4 linked regions of the Homo sapiens genome follow. The protein of the gene in region 3 purifies or fractionates together with the protein of the main gene of each other region. This does not show direct contact. Each region holds a gene or a part of one and is shown on either strand. Other genes may lie near its edges. The genes, in order: RBM22, WDR83, SYF2 and AQR.

What was found.
Region 1: the proteins of SYF2 (region 3) and RBM22 purify together in Homo sapiens (co-immunoprecipitation; 3 studies listed by BioGRID and IntAct, with this or other methods). This does not show direct contact.
Region 2: the proteins of SYF2 (region 3) and WDR83 purify together in Homo sapiens (affinity purification with mass spectrometry; 3 studies listed by BioGRID and IntAct, with this or other methods). This does not show direct contact.
Region 4: the proteins of SYF2 (region 3) and AQR purify together in Homo sapiens (co-immunoprecipitation; 3 studies listed by BioGRID and IntAct, with this or other methods). This does not show direct contact.

Annotation. Positions count from the first base shown.
Region 1 is NC_000005.10:150,698,056-150,706,022, forward strand, and holds the start of RBM22 (pre-mRNA-splicing factor RBM22), read right to left. Parts: upstream 3,008-7,967; 5' UTR 2,931-3,007; coding exon 2,877-2,930; intron 2,443-2,876; coding exon 2,389-2,442; intron 1,217-2,388; coding exon 1,187-1,216; intron 577-1,186; coding exon 444-576; intron 1-443. UniProt on the Homo sapiens protein: Required for pre-mRNA splicing as component of the activated spliceosome. Involved in the first step of pre-mRNA splicing.
Region 2 is NC_000019.10:12,669,793-12,676,340, forward strand, and holds the end of WDR83 (WD repeat domain-containing protein 83), read left to right. Parts: coding exon 1-101; intron 102-184; coding exon 185-305; intron 306-387; coding exon 388-493; intron 494-770; coding exon 771-819; intron 820-902; coding exon 903-1,029; intron 1,030-2,677; exon of another isoform or gene 2,678-2,788; intron 2,789-3,054; coding exon 3,055-3,122; intron 3,123-3,215; coding exon 3,216-3,324; intron 3,325-3,409; coding exon 3,410-3,524; intron 3,525-5,730; coding exon 5,731-5,880; 3' UTR 5,881-5,999; downstream 6,000-6,548. Other genes in the region: DHPS (deoxyhypusine synthase), read right to left, coding at 6,046-6,141, 6,225-6,350. UniProt on the Homo sapiens protein: Molecular scaffold protein for various multimeric protein complexes. Acts as a module in the assembly of a multicomponent scaffold for the ERK pathway, linking ERK responses to specific agonists.
Region 3 is NC_000001.11:25,229,500-25,237,431, forward strand, and holds the start of SYF2 (pre-mRNA-splicing factor SYF2), read right to left. Parts: upstream 3,004-7,932; 5' UTR 2,969-3,003; coding exon 2,945-2,968; intron 2,713-2,944; coding exon 2,605-2,712; intron 1-2,604. UniProt on the Homo sapiens protein: Involved in pre-mRNA splicing as component of the spliceosome.
Region 4 is NC_000015.10:34,868,740-34,875,761, forward strand, and holds part of AQR (RNA helicase aquarius), read right to left. Parts: intron 6,126-7,022; coding exon 5,938-6,125; intron 5,261-5,937; coding exon 5,089-5,260; intron 2,184-5,088; coding exon 2,013-2,183; intron 1-2,012.

The sequences.
Region 1 (7,967 bases), on a different chromosome or scaffold from region 3:
AAGTTGCAGTGAGCTGTGATCACACCACTGTACTCTAGCCTGGGTGTCAGAGTGAGACCCTAACTCAAAAAATAAAATAAAATAAAGCACAATTACCCTGTGAGCTTCTGATTGGGATGGTGGAAAAAAGCTCTGGATCAAGAAAGAAGCCTAAGGCAAATAAATTATCTATCATAGGATCAACGCCTTTTACCTCACTTGGGCTACAGAGATGAAGGTTTAGGCCACTTTTGATTAATTCCCAACTTTTCCTTAAGTTCCTACTATTGTTCAGGACTCTAGAGTGGCCTAATTATGGTTCTTTTCCTGGGAAAAGCAGACCACGGCAGACATTCCAAAGTGAAATCAGAACCAGAGCTAGGGTGCGAAGTGGGAGACAAAAGACTGACTTGTAGTTTTAGGCACCTGCACACTTTCAGATTTATTGGACAGGTCAAACATACCATACTCTAGGTCTAAGAGGCAGGTCTGACAGACATTCTTCAATTTACTGCAGGTTTGGCACACTTCAGTCTTCTTGAAACGCATGCGGACTCCAGGGCACCAGCGAAACACTGTGAATGGCCTGGCACAGATCTGGAACACAAAGCAAGAGCCATAGAATGTCAATGGTCCTGATCTGGGCAATCTGGAGATCTGATAACAACGGGGCATTCAAAAAAGGATCCCTGAATGTAGGATTTAGAAGAGACCTTAGCAATCATCTAGTTGATTTGATGTTTCAATACAATTTTCAGCATCCTTCTCCAGCAAAAATTCAGAGTACAGAAATGAAATAGCCAAAGGGTCAAAGTTCTTCCCATCCTAGAGCTAAGCACCAATAATAATCTGAACCTTAATCTTTTTTAGGGGGAGTGGGGAGTGTCATGTAATTTTTTGAGAAGCTTCTGACAAGAATGACCTTCCTCCTCAGCTAAAATGCTCGAGTGGACAGTCATACACCACCTGGTGTACAAACTCCTCCAGTGCCCATCCACTGACACCGTAAGAATCTCTACATTAGAGGGTTCATTTTCTTACCTCCCACATAAACAGTTGCCAGCCAATGAATATATCAGTAATACATAAAAAGTTGTATAGCACTGATTTTTACTGGAAGACCTCAAAACTTAGTAAGCTGAAGGCTAATTTGGTAGAGAAAAGAAAAATGAAACAGAAATCATTACTCTTTAACAGACATACTTACTTTGCATTCCTTCCCATACTTTTCTTTGGTCTATAATAGAAAAAAAATAGAAAAGAACTGGAGTTACAGAAAGAAAAAAGCCAGATGTCTACTCTTTCCTTAAACATAACCCAAGAAATGTGTCTGGAAATCCCTGGCATCCTAGAGAGAGAAAAACAGCAACAACAAAACCCAAAACCCAACCTTTTTTGGGAAGAGGGTAGGGAACATACTATAACAACATATTATAAGTGATAACATCTCAAGAGTATATGGATCTGGGCTGGGTGGCAGTGGCTCACGCCTGTAATCCCAACACTTTGAGAGGCCAAGGTGGAAGGATTGCTTGAGCCCAGGAGTTCCAGACTAGCCTGGGCAACATAGCGAGATGCTGTCTCTACAGAAAAAAGAAATAGAGTATATGCATCTAATGCTAGGTAAGTGAGTGTCTTTCCACAGCCACAACTCTTAGGTTCATTTTTGGCTCCCAAGTTCACTCCCAAGAACTAACATTCCTAATGCTTTCCACAATCCCTAAATCAGAGAGGATACAGCTGTGGCCCGCCCACTTTACAAAGTTTAGTCAAAAGGTAGCTACTGTAGACTTGTCCTGTGCCAATGCCCGGAATATAGTAAATGTTCTGTTTAAACAGAACTATTCAAACATCTTGAACCATTCAAACATCGTGAACATACTAACATATCAACACCTCTACGACTACACAATAATACAGCCCTAACCTTATTATTGTTAACTGGTTCTAATTTTACCCTAGTTTGTAACAAAGGGGGAATGCTTACTTTAAAGAGATAAAGTACACTGGCCAAAAGGCATTTGACCAGGATTCAGGAAACCTAGTTTCTAGTTCTGGTTCTCCTCCTATCATGCTGACATTCCTAGAGCCAGAATATGTGAACTTAAATCCCAGCTCCATTCCTTACTATTGTATGAAAAGACACAAACGCTCTCACCTTCTGGTCAACAGACCTATTTCCTAGGTAAATGCTCAACAAATACTAGCTATCGTTATTACCCCTACATTACAGGAGTGTTACCGGATTCGTAAGAGAATACACATGACAGTTCTTTGCAAGTCGTCCAGCACTTCGCGTTAGTAAAAGAGCATCATTTTTTCTGCTTGTCTAAGAGAAACACTTCACAGTGTGCAAGTACCACAACATCGACAGGACATGAATAACTCGTTTCACACGCGATCACTCACCATTCGGATATATGGGTTTTCTCCAAGACATGTCTGGCACAGAATGGGGAAGTCCTGGTGAAAATGGGAAATCTGGTTGAGGACCACCCTCCGAAGACCCTGACACCTCAGTGACACTTGGGGTGGCGAGGGGGCGGGAAGCGAGGGTGGGGAACTAGGCACGGCAGGAACCCGAAGTCCATCACGACCCGATCGCGGGAGGGGGCGCTGTCTGCACTTCCGGCAGGCGGCGGGAGAAAAGAAAACCAGCTCTAATAGGCTGGAGGGGGCAGGGATGGAAAGGGTGCTGGTCCCGGGACCCTGGCTAAGCCCCCTCCCTTCAAGCCCGCAGGAGGATCGCCCTCCGCCCTCCTGCTCCGGCCAAGCTAGGCCGCCGCGCTGGCTCCTCCCCGGTATTCCTTCGGCCGCGCCGCAGGCCCTGTCCTGCCAGCTTGCAAGGTGCGCGGCTTCGCCTCCTCCTTCCATCCTCCTCCGGCAGGCACACTCACCGCATCCTCCCAGTTCTGCCTGTTGTAGGTGTTGGAACCCAGAGAGGTCGCCATCTTGAGAGCGTCCGGAGGTAGCTGTAGCTTCCGAATTGGGAGAGAGGACCGCCACAATCCCGTCAAGCCCCGAGGCTAGCGCCGCGCCGGTCGGCGTCTTATTTACGCGTCTAGGGCTTCTTCCGGGGCGGGGCCTTTGCGTCATGACGTCGCCCGCTCTTGGAATTTCTAAGCTTAACAATTGGGGTCCTGGTATAATGCACCTGGATGCTTCCTTCGAGTTTTTGCCTGCTTGGAATGAAGGGCCACACGTACAGTTGATTCATTTAACAATTGGGCGAAAGAATAAAGGAAGACGTAATGCATCAGAGGCTGGGGTTAAAATAGCGTTCGCTACCACTGAGGCGCTTATTATGCCAAACTCTGGGCGAACGTCTTGCGGTTCCAGTGTCTTATTTATTCGCATAACCTCTCTGTAGGGCTCTCTGTAGGGCTGCCAGATTCTGATTCTGTCTCTCTCTCTCTCTCTCTCTCTCTCTCTCTCTCTCTGTCACTCACACACACACATGCACACACACACACGCACGAATTACAGAACGTCTAAAGTTGAATTTCAGATTAACGGCGAATCGCTTTTTAATTATAAATATATATGGTACCTACTCGTCCTAAAGTAGGATTCGTGGTTGACCTGAAATTCACATCACTTAACCAATCGTCCTGTATTTTATCTGGTAACTCTACCCTGTAGGCAAGTATGATGATCCCTCTTTTATAGAAAAGAAAACAGGTTTAGAGAGATTAACCTAATCTCTCCTGATATAGCTCCTGGTTGTGGAGCTAAAAAGTGGTGAAGCCACAAATTCATTAGTACTGTTTCATTTCCAGCTTCTGAAATGACAAGGGTCTTACGAATCAACATATGCATTATTTGATTTTTGGAATAACTCATAACCACTCTGCCAATATTTTATGAGTTTCAAGCCATTCTGGTACCACTTTCATACTTACCGTGTCATCAAGCTACCTAACACATTTATTTAAATCACCTCATTAAAAAAAAAAGTTGATTTAAAGTATAATTTACATAAAGTTTTATCCTTTTTAGTTTTGAATTTTGTACATACATTCACTTACAGTCAAATATGGAATTGTCTGTCATCCCCAAAGTTCCCTTGTTTCTGTAGTTAGTCCACTTATCCCATACTCAAACCATGGCAATCACTAATTTGTGTTCTGTCCCTAGTTTTGCCTTTTCCAGAATGTCACATAAGTGGAATCCTATATATCCTTTTGGATCTGATATTTTTTCACTTAGTATTTTGTAGTTGAGATTCATCCATATTATTACATGTATCAATAATTTCTTCCTTTGTATTACTGAGTAGAATTCCATTGTATGGATATATCATACAATTCACTTGCCAGTTGCTGGATATTTGGGTTGTTCCCAGATTTTAGTGAATATAAATAAAACCATTATAAACATTCACATACAGATCGTTGTATGGACATTGGTTTTCATTTTGCTTGTGTAAATGCCTTAGAGTGAGATTATTTGATCATATGGTAAGTATATCTTTTCCTTTATAAGAAAGTCCTTGGGTTTATCTGAGCTTCTTGGATCTGTGATTTGTTGTCTTTTATTATATTTGGAAAATTCTCAAGTATCATCTCTTCAGACTGTCTTCTGCCTGGTTTCTACATCTGTGACTCCAATTTCACATGCCTTGTGAGGAGTGCAAGGTCAGAAATAACAGAGTCCACGTACATTTGTGTTTTTCCACAATGCCAGACTTTTACTGATGCTATTTCAATCACAAAAGCCACGAACTACATGGAGTTTCCAAGAAAGCAATTCTCCTTAGTACTTCCCACTCACTCAGCACTCAGAGTCTTGGACACACAGGCTCAAGGCACTCCACAGGTCAATCAATATTGCAAATCATGCATAATGGTATACTTAATCAACATATATATTATAGAGTGAACATTCCACAAACAAAATAACATTTAACATTAAGAGAAAAGAGATAGGACCCTTTTCTCCTTTAAGTCTGGAGCCCTCAGAATCATCTCCTTTCCTTCCTTTTTCCCTCTTTCCTCCCCCAATTTATTTTTTAATCTTTGTGGGACATGACTTCTAGGAATGAGCCTTCCTAGCAACATGGAACATGACTTCCTAGGAATGAGCCTTCCTAGTAACGTGAGACCTGAATTTCCTGGAATAAACCATCCTAGCGACAAGAAACCAGCTCAAAAAAGGAGGAAAAAGCGAACTGAGGCCAGGAACACATATTCCTTTTAAAATGCTTTCTCCAAAAGATGTTAAAGAAAAAAAGGGGGAAATGTGAAAGGAAATTAAATCTTGGGACCCCAGACTCATTAAGCCAAAGGGAAAAGTCAAGCTGGGAAGTGGGTCACACAAACCTGCCTCCCGCTTTTGGTTCCTAAATAAGATGGCTACAAGATGGAAAGCTACATGCCTCCCCCATATTTTGCCCACAAGGAAATTCCTAGTGAGGAATTTTACTTTCCTAGAAAGGAAAAAAGAAAAGAGATGAAAAAATATATATAGGGACTAGGCCAGATTTATAGCAACAAAAGGAAAGCAAACCTGGAAGCTGGGTCAAGCTTTATTATATTACTGCCTCCTCAATTAAAGCAATTCTCTGGGCAATCATTACCTTAGCCCTTTCGGTTGCATATTGACTTATTTGCAAACACGTACTATAACAACATTGTAAGCAGAAACAGGACAGAACATAAATTATTCCTTCTATTATAAGCAATAGCTTCTGCCACTAAATTCCCCAGGATCCAAACCAACCACTCAAGCAATGGATTAGTGAGGGTTTTGGATCTGACAGTTGCTTATCTGGGTTTTCATACTGGTCATAATTCAGTTTATGTTCTTTGATTCATCTGGAATATACACACAACATTCAGTTTTTACGGTGGCACAGGTTCCCCTTGTGCTGCCATGAGTATATCTAAAGCCACATAGTTTTGCAACACAGCTTTCCTCATAAGCATGACCTCATTGCTTAGCAAAGAGGTACTCATGCAGCTACCATTTAGGGCCTTTGGGTGTAATTCGTTATGGCCTCTATATGCCATATAACATCTTCGATACCTATCTGTGGTACAAAGATTGAAGCTAAGTGATCATAGCACTGGAATACCAAACATGTCCAATGAGATTGTAAATGAAAAAGGTTTGCTGGTTTAATGGAAGGGTCTGAATTACTGGGCAACATATGGGGGAGGCATGTAGCTTTTCATCTTATAGCCATCTTATTTAGGAACCAAAAGCAGGAGGCAGGTTTGTGTGACCCAGTTCCCAGCTCGACTTTTCCCTTTGGCTTAATGAGTTTGGGGTCCCAAGATTTAATTTCCTTTCACAATATATATAATCCATATTTTCCTTTTCTTTTTTTTCGAGATGGGGGTCTCACTTTGTCACCCAGGCATGATCATAGCTCACTGTTACCTGGAATTCTTGGGTTCAAGGGATCCTCCAGCCTTAGCCTCCCAAGTAGCTGTGACTATAGAAGCAGGCCACGGTGCCCAGCTAATTTTTAACTTTTTTGTAGAGACAGGGTCTCACCATGTTGCCCAAGCTGGTCTCGGAACTCCTGGGCTCAAGTGATTCTCCAGCCTTGGCCTCCCAAAGTGCTGGGATTACAAGTGTGAGCCATGGCACCTGGCTCCATGTTTTCCACCAGATTTTTTAACATTGTAGGGGCCAACAGAAAAGTTCCCCTTTGCCCTCTTAAGATTCACTGAAAATTAACTAGCAAAAGGCAGATTAATAGGAGAAAAGACATACAAATTTATTTGATCATAGTTTTACCTGACATAGGAGCCTTCAGAATGAAGACACAGATGGGAAATTGTCCATTTATATGCCTAGGTTCAACAAAGTATGGACAGCTATGTAGAAATAGGATTGGACAAAAAGCGTACTGATTTAGCGCTAATAGACTGAGTGGGGAAACCCAGCGAGGCCTGTCTGTCTAGATTCTTGGCCTCTCTCGGCAGCATTCCTTCCTTCTGGGTATGTACAGGACCGTCTTTGGAATGGGGGTCTTATGACCTACAATCTAAAACAAAGTAGCTCAGATAATTTATTCAGAGCCAGTTTTTACACAAAAGCAAGGCGGAAGTTAGAGTAGTTTTTTTTTTTTTTTTTTTTTTTGAGACAGAGTCTTGCTCTGTCGCCCAGGCTGGAGTGCAATGGTGCGATCTCGGCTCACTGCAACCTCCACCTCCCAAGTTCAAGTAATTCTCCTGCCTCAGCCTCCTGAGTAGCGGGGATTACAGGCACGCACCACCATGCCTGGCTAATTTTTGTATTTTCAGTAGAGACAGGGTTTCATCATGTTGGTCAGGCTGGTCTCGAACTCCTGACTTTGTGATCCACCTGCCTCTGCCTCCCAAAGTGCTGGGATTACAGGTGTGAGCCACCGCGCCCGGCCTAGAGTAGTATTTTACATTTTATGGCTGGCTTTGGGGAAAAGGGGTTCTCTCTATGACCCACCTTGAGGAAAAGGGATTCAGTGTCTGTGGCTAGGCTTGGGGAAGAATGAAGGGCCAGAGACAGGAAGGCAGAAGGTCAGAGAGAAACTTTTGCTTCTGAGGCTGCTTCAGAGCCTTAATTTGGGGTATCATTTTCTGAGCCCCAACAACATGTTAAAGTCTCTGTCCATTAGTTCAAACATCTGGGTTTGAGTAGCTGGGACGACAGGCCTGCACCACTACACCTGGCTAATTTTTGTACTTTAAGTAGAGGTGGGGTTTCACCATGTTGGCCAGGCTGGTCTTGAACTCTTGGCTTCAAGTGATCTGCCTGCTTTGGCCTCCCAACGTGCTGGGATTACAGGCGTGAGCCACCGTGCCCGGCCAAGTCATTGCTTATATAACAGAAGAGAATGAGGTAAATCATATTAATGCTCGGAAATGGGCAAGTGTGTTCTGTTAGACCGTCTGCATGGGGTTTGGTCAATCTGGTTAGGAATCAAGCGGGGCTTGGGTTTTTTTTTTGTTTTTTGTTTTTGTTTTTGAGATGGAGTTTTGCTTTTGTTGCCTACACTG
Region 2 (6,548 bases), on a different chromosome or scaffold from region 3:
GGCTTTCCCTGAGCCAAAGCCGCGGCCTCCAGAGCTGCCGCAGAAACGGTTGAAGACGCTGGACTGCGGGCAGGGGGCAGTGCGAGCCGTACGATTTAATGGTGAGCGCCTTCGTCTTCATTCCGGGTCCTCCTCCCGCCTCCTGAGATCGACGGCCCAGTAACCCCCGCCTGGTGTTCCCCAGTGGATGGCAATTACTGCCTGACGTGCGGCAGTGACAAGACGCTGAAGCTGTGGAACCCGCTTCGGGGGACGCTGCTGCGGACGTACAGCGGCCACGGCTACGAGGTGCTGGATGCGGCCGGGTGAGCCGGGGACCAGGCTGGGATGGGAGCGCTGAGGCTGGGATCCGAGGTCGATGCTGATCCTCCTCCTCCTTTACTCCAGCTCCTTTGACAACAGTAGTCTCTGCTCCGGCGGCGGGGACAAGGCGGTGGTTCTGTGGGATGTGGCATCAGGGCAGGTCGTGCGCAAATTCCGGGGCCACGCAGGGGTGAGTGAAAGCCTGGAGACCCTCATTTGAGTGGAGGGGACCCGTATTAGCGCATAGGTGGTGACACGGCCACCCCCATTACACCGTAAGGATCCCTTCCCCAGATGACGATCCCCCACTCCGCATGCCAGGCTAGGCAGTCACCAACCCCTGTCCTTGCTGTTCCCCCAAAACCTTTCACCTCCCCTTCGCCCTTGCTTTAACCGACACTGGGAACCCTGCCTTTATCCCAGTCCTCCAAAGTCCAGCCTCCTCTGAGTGGCAATAACTTTCTCAGAAGGTGAACACGGTGCAGTTTAATGAAGAGGCCACAGTTATCCTGTCCGGTGAGTCTGGGGCCTAAGCACGGGGGCCCAGGGTGCTGCCCTCCCCCTCCAAACCTGACCTCACCATCATGCTGGCCTCACAGGCTCTATTGATTCCAGTATCCGCTGTTGGGATTGCCGCTCACGGAGGCCTGAGCCAGTGCAGACGCTGGATGAGGCCAGAGATGGCGTGTCCAGTGTGAAGGTGTCAGACCACGAGATCCTGGCAGGGTGAGTGGAGCCAGGACCTGGTCTCACCCCAGGTGCTACGGGGAATCATAGCTGCCCCCATGCTCAGATTAAAACCTACTCTCAGCTGGGCACAGTGGCACACAGCTGTAATCCCAGCTACTTGGGAGGCTGAAGTGGAAGGATCACTTGAGTCCAAGAGTTCGAGGCACCATTGCACTCCATGCTGGGTGAAAGACAGACTGTCTACAAAATAATAATAATCTGGCCGGGCACGGTGGCTCACACCTGTAATCCCAGCACTTTGGGAGGCCAAGGTGGGCAGATCACTTGAGGTCAGGAGGTTGAGATCAGCCTGGCCAACATGGTGAAACCCCGTCTCTACTAAAAATGCAAAAATTAGCCAGGTGTGGTGACGGGAGCCTGTAATCCCAGCCACTCGGGAGGCGGAGGCAGGAGAATCGCCTGAACCCGGGAGTTGGAGGTTGCAGTGAGCCGAGATTGTGCCACTGCACTCCAGCCTGGGCGACAAAGTGAGACTCCATCTCAAAAAAAAAAAGATAAAATGATTTCTAAAAATAAATAAAAATAGGCCGGGCGCTGTGGCTCATGCCTGTAATCCCAGCACTTTGGGAGGCAGAGGCAGGCGGATCATGAGGTCAGGAGATCGAGATCATTCTGGCTAACACGGTGAAACCCCGTCTCTACTAAAAATACAAAAAATTAGCCGGGCATAGTGGCAGGCGCCTGTAGTCCCAGCTACTCAGGAGGCTGAGGCAGGAGAATGGAGTGAACCCAGGAGGCAGAGCTTGCTGTGAGCCGACATCGCACCACTACACTCCTGGGCGATAGAGCAAGACTCCGTCTCAAAATAAGTAAATAAATTAAATAAATAAATACATAAAAATAATCATAAGGAAGAATTTTTGTTTTTTTTGAGACGCAGTCTCGCTCTGTTGCCAGGCTGGAGTGCAGTGACGTGATCTCGGCTCACTGCAACCTCTAACTTCTAGGTTCAGGCGATTCTCCTGCCTCAGCCTCCCTAGTAGCTGGGACTACAGTCGCGTGCCACCACGCCCAGCTAATTTTTGTATTTTTAGTAGAGACGGGGTTTCGCCATGTTGGCCAGGAGGGTCTCCATCTCTTGACCTCGTGATCCACCTGCCCTGGCCTCCCAAAGAGCTGGAATCACAGGCGTGAGCCACCGCGCCTGGTGGAAAAAATATATTTTCTATTCATTAAGTGGAAGTGAAGAGATCGTCATAAAGATCTTCGTGTTGAGAAAGCAGAGGAGGAGGAAGAGGAGGGATTGATCTTGGTGTCTCACAGCTGATAGAGGCAGAAGAAAATCCACATATAAGTGGACGCGTTCAGTTCAAACCGTGTTGTTCATGGGTCAACTGTACTTTGAAAAGTGCTCCCTCTGGTGGCTGTGGGGGGTGCAGGGAGACCAGAACAGTCTAGATGCTGGTGCTGGGTAGTGGGGAAAGTGGTGGGACTGAGTACTGAGGAGGAGGAGCTGGAGAATGCAGGAAAAGGGGGAATTGGGCCAGGTGGGGTGGCTCACACCTGTAATCCCAGCACTTTGGGAGGCTGAGGTGGGCGGATCACCTGAGGTTGGGAGTTCGAGACCAGCCTGACCAACATGGAGAAACCCCGTCTCTACTAAAAATACAAAATTAGCAGGGCGTGGTGGTGCATGCCTGTATTCCCATCTACTCGGGAGGCTGAGGAAGGAGAATCTCTTGAACCCGGGAGGCAGAGGTTCCGGTGAGCCAAGATCATGCCATTGCACTCCAGCCTGAGCAACAAGAGCAAAACTCTGTCTCAAACAAAAGGAAGAAAAGGGGGAATCAGAAGGACTCCAAGGGCTTGGAAAGGGGGTGTGGGTCTTGGAAATGATGGAGTAGGACGTAATTGGCCCTGGGCCTGAGTCTCAAGGCCAGAGCTTCAGAATTCCACTCCTGTGCACTGGAAGAGCAGGCCCACTGGGCTGGGAAGGCACAGGGCTGCCTGGAGCCATGTGAGTGTAGTCAAGGTTCCCGCTGGATCTACCCTCTCCTGCAGCTCCGTGGATGGCCGCGTGAGACGCTATGACCTAAGGATGGGGCAGCTCTTCTCAGACTACGTGGGCAGTGAGTGTGGCTGGGGATGTGGGACAGGCAGGGAAGATGGGGGGCCAACCAGGGGCACCCCACCCTCACTCACCTACCCACCCTTCCCCCAAGGCCCCATCACCTGCACCTGCTTCAGCCGGGATGGGCAGTGCACCCTGGTGTCCAGCCTGGACTCCACATTGCGGCTCCTGGACAAAGACACAGGGGAGCTGCTGGGCGAGTGAGTCCTTGTGGTCGTGGGGATCCCCTTCCCTCCTCTCCCACCCCTGGAGAGGACCAAGCCCCCCGATCCTGTCCACCCTTAGGTACAAGGGCCATAAGAACCAGGAATACAAGCTGGACTGCTGCCTGAGCGAGCGTGACACACATGTGGTCAGCTGTTCTGAGGACGGGAAGGTGTTCTTCTGGGACCTGGTGGAGGTGAGGTGCCCCCAGCCCTACTTCATACCTAGATGCCTGCCCCATCTCAGCCCTGTCCTTACCTCAGTCACTCCAGGGCCTGAAGGCTAGGATCTTTTTTTTTTTTTTTTTTTTTTTTTTGAGACAAGTCTTGCTCTGTCGCCCAGGCTAGAGTGCAGTGGCGCAATCTTGGCTCACTGTAAACTCCGCCTCCCAAGTTCAAGCGATTCTCCTGCCTCAGTCTCCTGAGTAGTTGGGATTATAGGTGCGTGCCACCACACCCAGCTAATTTTTGTATTTTTAGTAGAGACAGGGTTTCACTATGTTGGTCAGGCTGGTCTTAAACTCCTGACCTCATGATCCACCCACCTCAGCCTTCCCAAGTGCTAGGATTACAGGCGTAAGCCACCACACCCGGCCCTTTTTTCTTTTTTTGAGACTATTGCCCAGGCAAATGCAGTGGCGCCATCTCAGCTCACTGCAACCTCTTCCCCCCAGGGTTCAGGTGATTCTCATGTCTCAGCCTCCTGAGTAGCTGGGATTACAGGCCCCTACCACCATACCTGGCTAATTTTTGTATTTTTAGTAGAGACAGGGTTTCACCATGTTGGCCAGGCTGGTCTCAAACTCCTGACCTCAAGTGATTCACCCGCCTCGGCCTCCCAAAGTGCTGGGATTACAGGCCTGAGACACCGTGCCCAGCTTGGGCTAGAGAGAAGATGAGGCAGGAAGGGCATTCCAGGCAAAGGGAACAGCATATGTTAAGAGGTGTAGCCTGCGCATGCATCAGTCAGGAAACAAAGGCTTCAGGGTGGCGGCAGGTGCGGCAAGATCCGGGGTCAGGCTGGGCTGCAGATGCCAGGCCGAGCAACTGGCACTGACCCCTGGGCAAGGGGGAGCCGACGGCCATGTCTAACCTTGGGTGAGATAGGGCTGCAGTCATTCAAGAAACTGGAGCTACATCTTAGCATCCCTGTGCATGGTTTCAAGCCCTGAGCCCTGTCCTTGACATGTCCCAGCCTGGTGGGGAGTCAGGCCAGAAACAGACCATCCTGGTGTAGTGGGGTCAGAGCCGGGGGAATCTCGGCAAAGGAGACATCAGCGCTGGGCTTGGCCAGGGGAACTAAGGCCCATAAGAGGATGGAGGGAACCGGGGGGGCCCTGAAGACTTGGCGGACAAGCTCTTGCTTTAGGAACTAAGGTAGCAAGAATGTTCCACCTATTTCTTATGGGCCCAGTAGAACAGAAGTTGCCTTGGAGGGCAGGCACATCAAGGGACATTTTCAAGGTGGAAAGAGGAAGCATGGCTTGCTTGAGGAACTGTTTACATTGTGTTGGGACCAGGGGAAGTGGGGATCATTGGGGCTGCCAAATGGACAGGATGGAGCCCAGCTGGTGGCAGGGAACAGGCAAGCTGTGAGCAAGGCATGCTCCAAACATGGTAGTGGCAGAAAATCAGCAGTCTCTGGACATGGTCTAGAAGCAGAGCCAAGAGGAATAACTGATAGAGGAACATGTGGTACAAGAAAAAGACTCCCGGCCAGGCATGGTGGTTCACACCTGTAATCCCAGCACTTTGGGAGGCCGAGGGGGGTGGATCACGAGGTCAGGAGATAGAGATCATCCTGGCCAACATGGTGAAACCCCATCTGTACTAAAAATACAAAAATTAGCTGGGCATGGTAGCGCGTGCCTGTAATCCCACCTACTCGGGAGGCTGAGGCAGGAGAATCGCTTGAACTAGGGAGTCGGAGGTTGCAGTGAGCCCAGATGGCGCCACTGCACTCCAGCCTGGCGACAGAGCAAGACTCCATCTCAAAAAAAAACAGAAAAAGAAAAAGACTCCCAAAGCCAGGCATGGTGGCTCACACCTGTAGTCCTAGCACTTTGGGAGGCCAAGGCAGGAGGATCACTTGAGGCCAGGAGTTCGAGACCAGCCTGGGCAACATGGTAAGACCCCATCTCTGCTATTTTAAAAAATAAAAAATCAATAAGAGGCTCCCAAGACTTGCGGCCTGAACACCTGGTAGGACAGAGCTACTGAGGGGCTCAGTCTGAGGTAGATTAATTTTGCAGTGTCTAGGAGGCAATTAGAGGCAGGTGGCTGAAGGTCGGGGAGAGGTGACTGAGGGCTTCAGGCAGGACTGAGATGGGGGGTGCCCAGGGACCTCAGAAACCAGGGTACAGCCCAGCCACAGATAACCACTCCCTACCCCTCGCTCCACAGGGTGCGCTGGCTCTGGCCCTGCCTGTGGGTTCCGGTGTGGTGCAGTCGCTGGCCTACCACCCAACAGAGCCCTGCCTGCTGACCGCCATGGGAGGCAGCGTCCAGTGCTGGCGAGAGGAGGCCTATGAGGCAGAGGATGGAGCAGGCTGAAGCCAGGGGACCCACCAACAGGACCAAGGACCGAGACACAGACATGGAAGGACTTCAGATACCATCTTATTCTAGAGACGTAGCTGACCAAAAAGTAGGGGAGGGGCTGGGTCTGCAAATTAATAAATAGAAGAGGGGGTAAGACCTTCCTGGGACCGCAGCCGCTCAGTCCTCGTTCTTCTCATGCATGAAGGCATCCATCTTCTGGGCAAAGGTTTCAGCCACAAGCAGGGGGAAGACCAGGGAGGCGTCAGCATAGACCTGGGTAGGGGGGAACCTGGGTAAGCCATGGGACCCACACTCATCGTCCCAGAGACCCTATGCCCCACCCAGCCAGCGCTTACCTTGACGGGCTGTGCATCCACCCGGATCTTGCCCCAGGAGACAGCCTCGTCTGGTCGGGCACCTGAGTCAGAGCCATCAAACTCCTGGGCTGTGTTGATGTAAACAGCGTAGTCGGCCCCGTTCCGCTGTGGGGAGGCGGGGGCACGGTGGGCCCAGTCAGCCAGTCACAGGAGACAGACACAGAGGGAGGACACCGTAGCCAAACAGGCTGAGAGGTGTGTCCCAGATGAAGGAAGCCCTTCACAGACATTCGCTCCCAGACAGGGCCCATGTCAATGTCTGGGGTCACTAGAGCTGCTGGGCAACGATGGCTGTGTTTCCCC
Region 3 (7,932 bases):
TGCAGTGGATCACGCTTGTAATCCTAGCACTTTGGGAGGCTGAGGCAGGTGGATCACCTGAGGTCAGAAGTTCAAGACCAGGCTGGCCAACATGGTGAAACCCCGTCTCTACTAAAAATACAAAAATTAGCGAGGCATGGTGGTGCACACCTGTAATCCTAGCTACTCGGGAGGCTGAGGCAGGAGATTCACTTGAACCCAGGAGGCAGAGGTTGCAGTCAGCTGAGATTGCACTACTGCACTACAGCCTGGGTGACAGAGCGAGACTCCATCTCAAAAAAAAAAAAAAAAATTACGTCACATGATGTGAAAGACACTCTTTCTTTTTTTTTTTTGAGACAGAGTCTCACTCTGTCACCCAAGCTGGAGTACAGTGGAGCCATCTCAGCTCATTTCAACTTTCGCCTCTGGGGTTCAAACAATTCTCATGCCTCAGCCTCCCGAGTAGCTGGGGTTACAAGCGTGTGCCACAATGCCTGGCTTATTTTTTTGTATTTTTGGTAGAAACGTGGTTTTGCAGTTTGGCCAGGCTGGTCTCAAACTCCTGGCCTCAAGTGATCTGCCCGCCTGGACCTCCCAAAGTGCTGGGATTACAGGCATGTGCCACCACACCAGGCCTCAATTATCTTTTAATCCTAATTCAAGAAAAAAGCCTCAATTTGGGTTAGAGGATTTAAAACCTATCTTAATGCCTCTAATGCTTTCCAAGTTCCCCTCCTTTTAAATATTTTCACAGTTTGCATTGACAAATGAAAAATGAAAGGAATTTTCCATTTGAAGTATCATTGAAGAGTCTTTTTTTTTTTTTGGAGCTGGGGTAGCAGGGAGAAGAGTCTATTTTTAAATAAACTTAATTGCATAAAGCAAAATGAGTGTATCGTCTTAAGGAAAACTTGAGTTAGACATTCCTTAGGTCATAAGCTGGTGGCAGTTTGTCCAGGAAGCCCCGCCTCCTAATTTCCAGACATGTGTTCCTTACACAATCACTCTAAATATTTAAGCATGTCTTTTTAATTGTTTATTAGATTAACTTTCCCTCGGCAAAGAGAGATACTCCTCCCAACTACCATCCCTAGTATATTCTTGGCCCTGGAAAAGCCCTGCAATTAAAGACGCCAAGAACATACCTACGGTCAACAAAGTTGAGTCTGTTGCACAGAAGAGAGCAAACCACGGGGAACCGTGGGCATTTGAGTGACAGGGTGTTAGGAAGGGCTTGTTCCAGGATTTGGGTTTGTATCAGGTGACTGAGGGGAGGGTTAAGGATGTGGATTGGGTACTGTCAGAAAGCAGGGGCTTTCTACAATTAGGTATCTTAGATTTTTTTTTTTTTTTTTTTTGAGATGGAGTCTCGCTCTGTCGCCCAGGCTGGAGTGCAGTGGTGTGATCTCGACTCACTGTAAGCTCCGACTCTCGGGCTCATGCCATTCTCCTGCCTCAGCCTCCCGTGTAGCCCGCCAGCACGCCCGGCTAATTTTTTCTATTTTTAGTAGAGACGGGGTTTCACCGTGTTAGCCAGGATGGTCTTGATCTCCTGACCTTGTGATCCGCCCTCCTCGGCCTCCCAAAGTGCTGGGATTACAGGCGTGAGCCACCGCACCCGGCCCAGTATCTTACATTTTTATATAGGAGGCAGAAGTAACGGAGTGAGACTAATGCTGTATTTGTTAATAACAGTCACTGGTGTTAGTCAGAAGAAAGAAATATGTGGTCATTCTTGTAATTTGAAAAGTCTTCTTTGTTTTGTCTCACTACAACAGTCAGAGTGATTTTGGGATTTTGTGAAACCATGGCCTAGCTGTCAGGTCACTCCATGGTGAAACAGGGGCTGCTTTTCTCTTTCTCTGCTCCAACTGCAGCAAGCTATTTGCTGGACTCTTATCCCTAATACAAATTCTCTTTCTTTGAATTTGTTCCCTTTGCTTGGATATCTCTTTCTCTAACTCCTTTAGTTGTCTGGCTTTCAAACAGTAGTTTAGGTGTCACCTACTACATGAGGCACCCCCTGGAGACCCACAAACTGCATTCCTCTCTCCTCCTCTGCACCTCCAGGGCACTTAAACATCAGATTCCCTATCAACTGGCTGAACTACCACACTGTAGACTTTCAAAAGTTTGCCATTTTTTTTATTTTCTTTTTATTCTTTTCCCCCAGAAGTCCCAAAAACAGATGATTATTTTCTTTTCACTCAAACAGATTCTGACAGAAGATTATTATTTTTTAAAGTGAACCAGGTCTCTTACTGACACTAGACAAGTTTCTTCCTGTCTCTAGCTCTACATATTTCCCTAGGTAAAATGAAGAATTTGTTGGAATCACGGAGCAGGGAGGTTGTTAGTAATGGAGACTCCCAAACCTAACCCAGATACATTAAATTGGATGTGGGTGGGAGAGGGGCTGGAGTGAACAGTTATATTTTCAAATGTTCTCAGAATGATCCCAATGTGCTGCCAGGGTTGAGTACCACCGAACAGAGCTTTCCTCTCAGATGATCCTGCTCTGTTGGTCTGTCAGACGCAGTGGTGTGGCTTCCTCGTCCCCTCTACAAAAGCGCACAGGCTTGGCCAGATGACGGATCTAAGCCGGCCTCCAAGACTACTCACCCGCATCAGGTGCAGCTCCCGGAATTTGCGCAGTCTCTGTTCGCGCTTCTGAGCGGCCAGCTCCGCCGCCGCAGCGAGGGACCCCTCCTCCGCGCTGTCCACCAGCACCTGCGACAAGGAGAACTGGCTTCAGGCAGAGCCGGCTCAGCTTCTCCCAGGACTGCCCAGGCCGAGTCCCCGCCGGTCCCCACAGGCTGGGCCTAGGGCCTCCACCGCCGACTTGACCCCACAGTGTCTGAGCCTCCCTGAAGCGAAACTAGACTTCGCCTCCACCTCTCTCCAGGCCGCTCCCCGGAACCCTCACCAACAAAACCCCCGGTGTACGGTGGGTGGAACTCACCTCGGATGCAGCTATAGCCGCCATCACAACCTTTCTCTCTTCCCACTTCCGGCAACAAGATAGAGCACTTCCGTCAACCTTCAGACAAACGGGCCGATACGTACGAATGGGCTACCATAAGCCCCGCCCCTTCCGGGAGGTCTCCGGAAGTTGGGACCCTTTTAGCTATGAAATATTTTGGATTGCGTAGGGTCTTGCGCAGCCGCGAAAAGTAGCGTGGGCCAGGACAGCGGGAGGTAAGTCGCCAAGAAAAGGGTTGGGAAGAGCTCAGAATCGGACGGCTAGGAAGAAATGACCAAAAGGAGCCTGATAGCCCCCTATTCTGCACGCTGTTCCTGGAAACCGCCTTTGCAAAGACAGTGAGAGAAATCTAACATGGCTCACTCCATCTTGCTTCTAGCCTCGCAGGCCGGCTGTCTTCGCTCATTCCTGGGCATAAACCAAGCTAACCATGGGAGAATTTATAGTTTAACTTTTAAGCAAGGATGATCATAGTCCCTTCCTTAAACAGGGCCCCTCCTTGTTTGGGGGCTGAAACTGCCTTTATAAAACTAATGAAAGACCGGGAGGTTAGGATTATGAGGGGAGAATTCTGCTAAAATGTAGTAAACGATAACCAGCCATTGTTTCGGAGGACATCGGATGTGTAACTTCCCCAATTATTCCTGTAGATAACGTTATCGTAGCACCTAAGATTGGTCTTTTGAGGCATTTTTCAGACTTTCGCATTCTGGCAACTAACTGACCCCACCCAGACTCGTGACCCATGACCCAACCGCTTCTTCTGTCCCACTCCTCCCCCAAGAGGCGGACTCAGCTGTTGAGGAGTGTAGTCCACACCCCTGTGATTGCATCTCCAACCAATCAGCAGCATCCATTCCCTAGTGCCCTGCCCACACCAAACTATGAAATACCCTAACCTCTGAGCTGACCCTTCAGGAAAACTTACTTGAGTGGTAACCCTTCTTCCCTGAGGCCAGCCTCAGGTTAATACAACTGTATACTGCAGTAGCACTTTTCAGTGAATTGGTTTTGTCTGCAGTAAGCAGGAAAAACCTGCAGTGCCATTCATTCCCATGAGTGGAAAGTTCTTTCCATTTAGAGCTTAAGGTGTTGTCACTTTCTCCAAGAAGCAGGTCTTGCCCTTGGCCTGGTGTGGTGGTTCATGGCTGCAATCCCAGCACATTGCGGGGCGGAGGCGGGAGGATTGCTTGAGCCCAGGAGTTCAAGACCAGCCTGGACAACAAAGTAAGAATCAGTCTCTAAATTAAAAAATAAAAGTAATTTTTTTTTGTTTTTTTGTTTTGAGACAGAGTCTTGCACTATCACCCAGGCTGGAGTGCAGTGGCACCGATCTCGGCTTACTGCAACGTCCGGCTCCCGGGTTCAGACGATTCTCCTGCCTCAGCTTCCCGAGTAGCTGGGATTACGGGTGCCTGCCACCATGCCCAGCTAATTTTTGTATTTTTAGTAGAGATAGGGTTTCACCATGTTGGCCAGGCTGGTCTCGAACTCCTGACCTCATGATCTGCCCACCTCAGCCTCCCAAAGTGCCGGGATTACAGGCATGAGCCACTGTGCCTGGCCATAAAAATAAATTTTTAAAAATAGAAGCAGGTCTTCCCTGACTACCCTGTCTCACTTTTAGTACTGTCATTTGACACTATTTTAATTCTCTCCAATTGCATAAGTTTTATTTTTGTCTGTTGATTTTCTATTTTTCTCATCAGCGTTATTACTGGAGAACAGCAGAGTCCACCCATCTTGTTTACTCTTACATGCTCAGCAGAGAGGCAATGCCAGAATTACTAACAGTGCTAAAGTTACTAAGATAAGTAAGGTGCTGGATATAAGAGGAATATATGAAAATTATTTTTTTCTGCACTAACAACTACTAGTTAGATACAGAAATGAAAAAGTAGGCCAGGTGCAGTGGCTCATGCCTGTAATCTCAGTACTTTGGGAGGCCGAGGCGGGCAGATCACGAGGTCAGGAGATCAAGACCATCCTGGCTAACACGGTGAAACCCCATCTCTACTAAAAATACAAAAAATTAGCCGGGCGTGGTGGCGAGCGCCTGTAGTCCCAGCTACTCAGGAGGCTGAGGCAGGAGAATGGCGGGAATCCGGCAGGCAGAGCTTGCAGTGAGCCGAGATTGCGCCACTGCACTCCAGCCTGGGCAACAGAGCGAGACTCTGTCTCAAAAAACCAAAAAAAAAAAGAAAAGTAATCCCTAAAATGAAAAGATACCTAGGTACAAAATTTAAATGGTAACATAAAAATAAAAGATAATTTGAAGTAAATTAAATCTGAATAAATGGTGGATAACCTATTTTCTGGTTGGAAGACTTAATATTATAAAAACAATATCACAAAGGAGTATCGCAAATGAGTTTATAAATGTCATGTTATTCCCATCAGAACCTCAGTGGGTCATTGTTTTTGTTTTTTGGAACTGGAAAATAATGTGGCAAAAATCTTAGAAGTTCAATAACACATTGTGTTGATGAGACCGAAGAAAAATGAATCCTACACATATTGCTGGTAGGACTAAAAATTGATTGAACCCCTAGGGAAGACAATTTGGCAATATCTGTAAAAATTAAGGCATTTACTCTTTGACTCAGCTATCATAATTCTGGGAATTTATGTTACAGATACAATTACACATTGAAAGGAAAATAAATCTTGGGGCCCCAAAATCACTAAGCCAAAGGGAAAAGTCAAGCTGGGAACTGCTTAGGGCAAACCTATCTCCCATTCTATACCTGAAAAAGCCACTAAGATAAAAAAGCTACCTACCTTCCTCACAGGGAATGTCCTTGTGGACAAAGGACAGAGAGAGGCAGGCGGATCACCTGAGGTCAGGAATTCAAGACCAGCCTGGCCTACACGGTGAAACCCCGTCTCTACTAAAAATACAAAAATTAGCCGGGCATGGTGGTGCGCAGCTGTATTCCCAGCTACTAAGGAGGCTGAGGTGGGAGAACTGCTAGAACCTGGGAGGCAGAGGTTGCAGTGAGCCAAGATCGCTCCACTGCACTCCAGCCTGGGCAACAAAGGGAGACTCCATCTCAAAAAAAAAAAGCCATCATCTGTTTTGGGGGTGTAATAAGATATATGTACTTCTGAACCATGTAAGTATTTCGGCCGGGCGCCTTGGCTCACACATGTAATCCCAGCACTTTGTAAGGCCGAGGCAGGCAGATCACCTGAGGTCAGGAGTTCGAGGCCAGCCTGGTCAACATGGCAAAACCCCGTCTCTACAAAAAATAAAAAAATAAAAAAATTTAGCCTGGCGTGGTGGCGGGCACCTGTAATTCCAGCTACTCTGGAGGCTGAGGCAGGAGAATTGCTTGAACCGGGGAGGTGGAGGTTGCAGTAAGCCGAGATCACGCCATTGCACTCCAGCCTGGGCAACAAGAGTGAAACTCCGTCTCAAAAAATAAATAAAAAATAAGTGTGTCAATTCTAAAATTAAAAAAAATTTAAAAGTTTGCATGGAAAAACTAAGAATAGTCAACAGTATTTCTGAATAAAAAATAGAATCGCGGCTGGGCGCGGTGGTTCACACCTGTAATCCCAGCACTTTGGGAGGCCAAGGCGGGTGGATCACGAGGTCAGGAGATCAAGACTATCCTGGCTAACATGGTGAAACCTCGTCTCTACTAAAAAATTAGCTGGGCATGGTGGCGGGCGCCTGTAGTCCCAGCTACTCAGGAGGCTGAGGCAGGAGAATGGCGTGAACCCGGGAGGCGGAGCTTGCAGTGAGCCCAGATTGTGCCACTGCACTCCTGGGAGACACAGATTCCGTCTCAAAAAAAAAAAAAAAAAAACCACACAATTACATGTGGTTTTGTGCCTCTTGGATTTCAGTTATTGGGGAAGAGTAGTGCTTACATCCTTCTTATTTTACTGTTATTAAGAATCCTGGCTGGCACGGTGGCTCAAGCCTGTAATCCCAGCACTTTGGGAGGCCAAGGCAGGAGAATCCTTTGAGCGCAGGAGTCCAAGACCAGCCCTGGCAACATAGCGAGACCTCATCTCTACGCATGGTAGCCTGCCCCCGTAGTCCCAGCTACTCGAGAGGCTGAGGTGAGAGGATTGCTTGAGCCTGGGAGGTCAAGGCTGCAGTGAGCCCTGATCACACCACTGCACTTCAGCCTGGGTGACAGAGCGAGACCCTGTCTTGAAAAAAAAAAAAAAAAATCCTATTCCTGCCAGTAAAATTGGGCTCTATATTACCAATTTGTTTATATTGCAAATTAAAATCTGCAAGTCTGGACTTAAAAAAATGGAAATGTTTGTAATTAACTAAAGTTTCTGGAAGTGATAAGCAGTATAGAAAGGAAAGATGTGTGGTAAAAATTGCTCAACTGATTTTGTAAGGATTTATTAAGAGTATTCACAGGATTTTCAACATTGCTTTTCTGTGCAATATGATAATTTGTGTGATTTTTAAAAACTGGGCTGGCTACAGTGGCTCACGCCTGTAATCCCAGCACTTTGGGAGGCCGAGGTGGGTGATTTGCCTGAGCTCAGGAGTTTCACACCAGCCTGGTCAACACAGTGAAACCCCGTCTCTACTAAAAATACAAAAAATTAGCCAGGCGTGACTGCGTGCGCCTGTAGTCCCAGCTACTCGGGAGGGTGAGGCAGGAGAATCACTTGAATCCAGAAGGCGGAGGTTGCAGTGAGCTCAGATGGCGCCACTGCACTCCAGCCTGGGCGACACAGCAAGAGTCCGGCTCAAAATAAAACAAACAAACAAAAAAAAAACTGTTATGAACTGTATCATTTCTCTATTGTGGCATAACAAATCATCCCAAAACTTGGTACCTTAGCACAAATATTATTTTATTATTATCTCTCATAGGTCTGAGAATTGGTGTGGTTCTCACACAGGGTCTCTCATGCAGTTGCAGTCAGATTAGGGGCTGGGGCTGGAATCATTGTAAAGGTTTCCTCACTCAGAAGTCTTGTGGTTG
Region 4 (7,022 bases), on a different chromosome or scaffold from region 3:
CATAAAAATAGCATCAAAAGGATATATTCTTTTGTGTCCTGTTTCTTTCAATCAGCATGTTTCTGAGATATATTCATGTATGTGTACATGAGAAATTCATACCTTTTTGAGTATTCTTTCACTGAACAAATATACCACAGTTTTGTCCACTCACCTTTTCATGAAAAGTTGGCCTGTTTCTAGTTTGAAGCTATCTTGCATAAAGCTGCAATAAATATTCATGTACAAATATTTTTGTGGACATGTTTTCATTGCTCTTGAATAAATATGCAGGAGTGAAATTGCTGAGCTGTACAGTAAGTGCATACTTTATAAGAAACTGTCAAACTTTTCCAAAATTGTTATCCCACTTTACACATTCCCCAGCAATGTGTAAACTCTAGAACCCCAGTTCTAGAGTTTCAGTTGTTGTACATCCTTGCCAACATTTGTCATAATGTCAATCTTCATCATTTTACCCATTCTTTTGGGTAGGTAGTGGTATATCATTGTAGCTTTAATTTCTATTTCCTTGACAACTAATGATGGTAAGCACTTTTTCATGACGTATTGGCTACCTGTAGGTCTTCCTTATGTGAAGTGTCTGTTCAAGTCATTTGCCCATTTTGTATTGGTCTGCCTTATTTAGTAATAACTTTTATAGGAGTTCATATATTCTGGATATACGTCCTTTGTTGTTATGTGTGGATATTATACCTGGGAATTCTGTTGCCACTCTGACCATGTGGAGAACTGGGCTCACATGCTGACATTAGCAGGGCAGAATAACATCGTTGAGCTACCCTGTAACCCAACCTTGGAACCACCCTATTTCCATCTTGTTATGAGAGAAAGTAACTTTCCTTATTATTTGAGTAAGATTTTCTGTAAAAGGACTCAAATATTGAGGTCCTTCTATTTCTAAACTTGCAAAATTATTAGTTTCTCAGTTTCACTCTATTCCTTATGAAGTATTCTGTGCAGTGTCTATTCTTCCCTGTATTCCTTTTGATTTTGTTTTCATTCCTCTGATTTTATTTTCTTCCAGCTTACATTTCATCTCTTTCTGAGTTCTTACATTTCTCTGCTTTGTAGCTTTTCCTCAAAGATATGGTTACTTCATTAAGTATTTCCCAATTTACAGCAAAATGTATATTTGAAAATTTCATCTTTTCCAGGCCAACATGGTTTCTGGAGCATGTATCCTATCTATGTTTTGCTGTTCTTCATTTTTTCCTATAAATTGAGCTTGTGCTAGTTCCCTTTATACTATTCATCACTGAATAAGTAAGTTTCTTAGATTAGCTATGTGGGAGACATGAAGATGGGGTGAGCAAGGCTGTTTTCTGAAGGCTGGACGGTTTTCATAACAAAAGGCCCTCTTTTCTTCTGCTACTGCACAGATAGTCTATAAAAATAGTTTGTCCCCTCTTTTTCTCATTTTCCTGTTACATTTGCATAATTTCCAAAAAAGGTGAGCTTTTACATAGCCATGTTCATAGCCAAAGTCCTAATTTTATCATTAGTATTATCTTTATGTTTTTTCTAATGTATTCTACCCTTCATTAATGAAAGAATCATCATTTTATTTGATATTATGCATTTTTGATTACATAAAAAATATATATATTTTTAAAATCCCAAGGTCTGAATACATTTTACAATCTTCCCTTATTCCCAAGACAACCTCCCCCTATACACAATAAAAAGCAGTCTAAATTATACCCCTGCAAAGCAAAACATACTCCTTGTAACAGTACACATATTATAATGTAATTTTGTTATATATCATTTTATGAACAAAAAGTTTCAGAAACATTTCTTTTACCATCAATAAATATCTTTTATGTGGTAGCTGAGATAGAAAGTCACATCAAACCAGCAAGACTGTCAGAGAGTTATTTATAGTTCCCATTATTTCATTTTCTCAAATATCTTAAAAAGAGATAGCAAAGAGGCAAAGCAGAACAATATAAACCTTTCCATCTTGCCAAAATGATGAATAAGAGAACATATTATAATTATAAAAGTACCTTGTTTGGTCTTCCAATCAATGGATTGTTTCCACATCGTCTATTGATGATGTCGCGAATAAGATGCTTTTGGCCATTATATGTTGTTAGAATACTGATTTTGTCAGCAGGGTAACCAAGTAAACACATGTACATAAAAAGTGCTACTACATATTCTGCCTCTCCAAGATTCTGTAATGCAAACATAATCAGACTGTGCATTCATTTGCTTTTGTTTCAATTTTATAGAGAAAATATCTCATCTAGATAAGCAAAACTTGTTCACTTTGCACACTGCAAGAAGTGAAGACTTAGTAACTTGGATAAGTGAGTACCTTTCATAAAACTGAGGGATAATTTTATGCTACATTAACAGTGATAAATACAAACTTTTAATTTGCAATACATGGAACAATCCTAAAATAAAACTTACCAACTTAAAGGCTTAATATTCCTAAGACCATAACAATCACAATATAGATTAATACTATTCTGGCCAGGCATGGTAGCTCACATCTGTAATCCCAGCACTTGGGGAGGCCAAGGCAGACAGATCACTTGAGTCCAGGAGTTTGAGACCAGCCTGGACAACATGGTGAAACCCTGTCTCTACTAAAAATACAAAAATTAGCTGGGCATGGTGGTGCATGCCTATAGTCTCAGCTACTCTGGAGACTGAGGTGGGGGGATCGCTTAAGCTTGGGAGGCAGAGGTTGTGGCGAGCTTCAATCGTGCCTCTGCACTCCAGCCTGGTGACAAAGTGAGATCTCATCTCCAAAAAAAAAAAAAAAAAAAATTCTATACAATGTGCCACAACTGTAGTTACACAGACACAAAACTATAAAGGAACAAAGTAACTAAGAAGCCAATACAATACCCAGTTTAATAGCAAATACACCTAGCAGTATTATAATTGACTCAATTTTTGCACAGTGCTTTTCCTCCTTCCTCATGTTTCTTAATGTTTTTTGTATGCTTTGTTTCTGTTCTCTGCGTAATGGTTGTCACTTCTACTAGATCACTTTAGGTGGGATGAGGATGTGACCGCAAATTGGTCAGTCTGGTTTACTGTTAAATTACAGACTAGAAAGGAGCTTAAAACTAAGGCTTATTCAACTTAAAGGTGAGGAACCACACACAAAGCTCTTTGGTCCAGTTCAGTAGAGACTAAATCCAAAGTACTAGATGAAAGAAGAAAGTAAAATAAGAATATAAACACAATATTTAAAAAAAAAAAAAAAGGAAGCTGGATTTCATGCAAAGGCAACCGAAAGATTACTGGAAGACTTCTAAAAATATCATTTATATTCTGGTTCTTTGTGACGCACAGCTTGAGTTACAAGTTCATTTAAGTTTTCTAGTTCTTTAACACTGCCCAATTTGGTACTTTGCCCAAAGGTTAGACATGAAGCATTAACAATAAAACAACATGAACTGTATTGTGACCAAACATTTTAGAACTCGCTCCAAATGAGTCAAGTCCCCTTCAAATTAGTGACTTTTATTCATTTATCCACCTAGTCTTTCCCTCTCGACACTAATTCTTCAAATGTTATCACTTAAATGCATAGTATTCTTATTTTGGGGGACAGTGTTTTCAACTCTCCAGAAATATATTTAATAGTGGCAAATCATCATCTGAAAATATATTTATTTCTTGAATCGCTAAAAACTCATCTAGAGTTAGGCTTAATGAATAAGAAAAACAGGTAACCAATCTGGATAAAAATGTTTCAATCAATACTACAGTATGACTCAGGCAATGAAACTGACTCAAAGAAGAAATTCCAAAAAACCAATATGTAATGAAAACATCAGTTGATTACTGATAGAATAATTAATTTCTAAGGTGGCTATTAGGAAACATCACTGATTTGAACTAGGTTCTAATATTTTTAAAGTTATCATTTAAAGGTCACATCTGTTCTCAGGCATTAAGTACACAAATAGAGTAACTTGATTTAATATAACCAAATATTTGGAGGGACAATAAGATCTGCATGAGTTACATCTATGCATACACATTTAAGCTGATGATAAATGATGCTTTTTCATGAATAACTCAAGATCTCTAATTTGTATAACAACCTATATTGGATATTTTGCTGTAAAGAGAGAGAGAAAAAAAGAAAAAAATTAAAATAACCCCAAATGCTACCAACCAAAGACTATATTTTGATGTATATGCTGCCAGGTCATTTTGTATAGATTATCTGTATGTATTTCTATATGTATGTATTGCAGCTCCTTTTTAAAATGAGATACTGTAGATATACTTTGCAACTTTTTTCCACTTAATATAGCATAAACATTCTTCCTGTTAGTAAATACAATGTTATCATTCTTAGTGGCTATCTAGTATTTCTTTTATATGGAATATGTAATAATGCAATTAATCCCTACTGACAGATATTTGGGTTGTTTCTCATTTCCAGAATAATTTGCAGTGATGAACATGAAGCATACAAGTCTTTCCAAACTTGCCCAATTATTTTTTTAGGATAAATTCCTAGATGTGAGAACATTGCTTTTCATACATGCTGACAATTTGTCCACCAAATTATTTTCCTACTAGCATTGTATGAGAATAAAGTTTCCCCAAACCTATCCCAACACTGAGCATTGTTATAGAAGTGAAAATGTAATTCAGTGATTTATACTTGTTATAAAATATGAATTGCATATTCATATTTTCCTGTTAGTCTTGATTTTTTAAAACAATTTATGAGTTCTATAAATATATTCAGAATTCAACTTGTTTGTTAAATATTGAAATAAATTTTAAATACTGAAAATAAATCTTTTCTCCAATCGCTATTTTTCTTTATGATTTCTGCTTTTGTAACAAGCTTAGGAAGACCTTTCTCACTCCAACACTGTATATTCATTAATATTTTCTTCTAGTAGTTTCTAGTTTGTTTAGTTTCTTTAGTGCATGTATTTTTAATCAATCTGAAATCGATTTTTCATATGCTATGTGTAAGGTGGGGTTCCAACTTTCCTTTTCTCAACGGCCAAATGGTTAAGTATCACTGATTTAGGCATATGTCAGCCAGCAAATGCAAAATAAACTTATAAGCTTCCTATTTTTTCTTACCTGATAGAAGTAAGGATTAGGTTCAGATTCTCCCACTCCTTGAAAATCTTCAACATTAATGAGCTGGAAGTCATACAGTAAGCCAGCATTTGCTGTACTAAACTCTGGCAAGAGCTGCACATGGGGTAAGTTTCCTAGATTCTTGTATCGCCAGTTGTAGAGGTTGCACAAGCTTTCCAAAGACAAATTCCCCCACAAACAGAAAATATTAGCAGTGTAAAATCTCTTTTAATATACATAAGGAGGTTTCTGTTTCTGTGCTTCTTTTAAATTTTCATGTTAGCCATTTTGGCTCATCTTTTAAGCAATAATGCTCTTTCAACCTTAGCTTCCCTACTTCAAGTAACCAAGGGTCAGAAGACTGAAGGTACTACAAAAATGAGAGTTCTATTACGCTCTCTGAGGTCAATGCTATCTTTATCCCTTAAATTAAAAAATCAAGGAAGACTAAAAATTGAGGACATTTGGGGGTAACTATGAGATGGGGCCTGCATCCTTTATGAAGTAAGAATTGGTGTGTTCTCCTCTTGTTCACTTTATTTTTAGATTTTAAAATTATATTAACTGTATATCTTTTGGGGACATGAAGAAAGGAGAAGGGACAATGAAAAGAAGCCTTTAGATTATAAGTTACTTAAATTAATATTAATGAATGAAATGAAGGAAATAAATTATTTGGTCCATTCACATCTCTTGCAGAAGTCGACAAAAGTGCTTTTGGATTTATGGATAGCCAAGTTCCTGGATAGCCAAGAATGCTAATAGTCTACACAAAAGCTATTCACAAATACTTGGATCATGGAACAAATGTCCTTAAATGGGAATGATTTTTTTTCCTGTCTCTTTTACCTTGCTCTGGCTCTCCCTTGAGCATCAAGGTCAACAGTCGGAACTCCAACGCGAACAAAGCGAGTGAAGAGAGACTGCTCCATGTTTGAGTACTTTTGAAAGGCCATGTTCTTAATAACTGGAGGTAACTGGTGATGATCGCCAATCATAATCCATCGTTTTAGTCGGCTAAATCCATCCTGAGGATTCTAGAAATGAAAAGTAAGGAAATGGCAAAATACTCTATTATCCTCTTGTCTCCAATTTATTACCCGAGAGACTCAGTCTTCATCAAACAGCTTCCTTATCTTACAAATTACCAAACTTTACCAGCTCCACAAACAGGAGTCTAGCAAATTTACAGAACAATTTGTGAACCAATTATGGACGTTATTGCTCCTGGGTGACAGTGGGTGAGGGAGAATGGAGGTATTTAGAAGGCAAGCATGGAATTACCCTACTTTAATAGGCAGGGTAATCCAAAGAAGGCTGGAAGGATTAGGTCAGGCATTAGGTAACGAGCACACAGAAAGAAACAGAAGCCCAAGAAGAGAAATGGAAAGATGCGAAATAAACATGTTTCACAATTAGCTGAGGACCAATTCTGAACCCACCAAAGCAGTAAAAACTACCTTCTTTAATTATCTACACTACTACTTCAATTTCCTACTCTATATGTCTCCTAGTTCCTTGAAACATATCCTGATAGAATACATTCCAAGTTCCAAGTAGCTTCACTTATAAAAACAACTTCTGGAACTCAATTTATCTGCATATTAGAGTGGTCTCTATCCTTAAGTTGGGAATTCCACATTTTGTTTTTAATGCTTCAATAGTAAAGAATATTTTACAGTAAAAAAATTCTTAAATAGCACAATTTAGCTCAAAAACTTAGGCATAAAGAAAAGCAATGCACTCAGTGAAAATGAAAAAAATAATTCTACAAACAATTATAACAAAAGAAATGAAGAAACAGCTCATCTTCCCACCAAACTGCACAACAATGTAATTTTCTTGATTAAAATTACTAAATCTTTTCAAAACTACAGAAATAGACTATGAAATTTTAAATAGTACTTCTCGAAGCAAAACAACTACTAAATAGC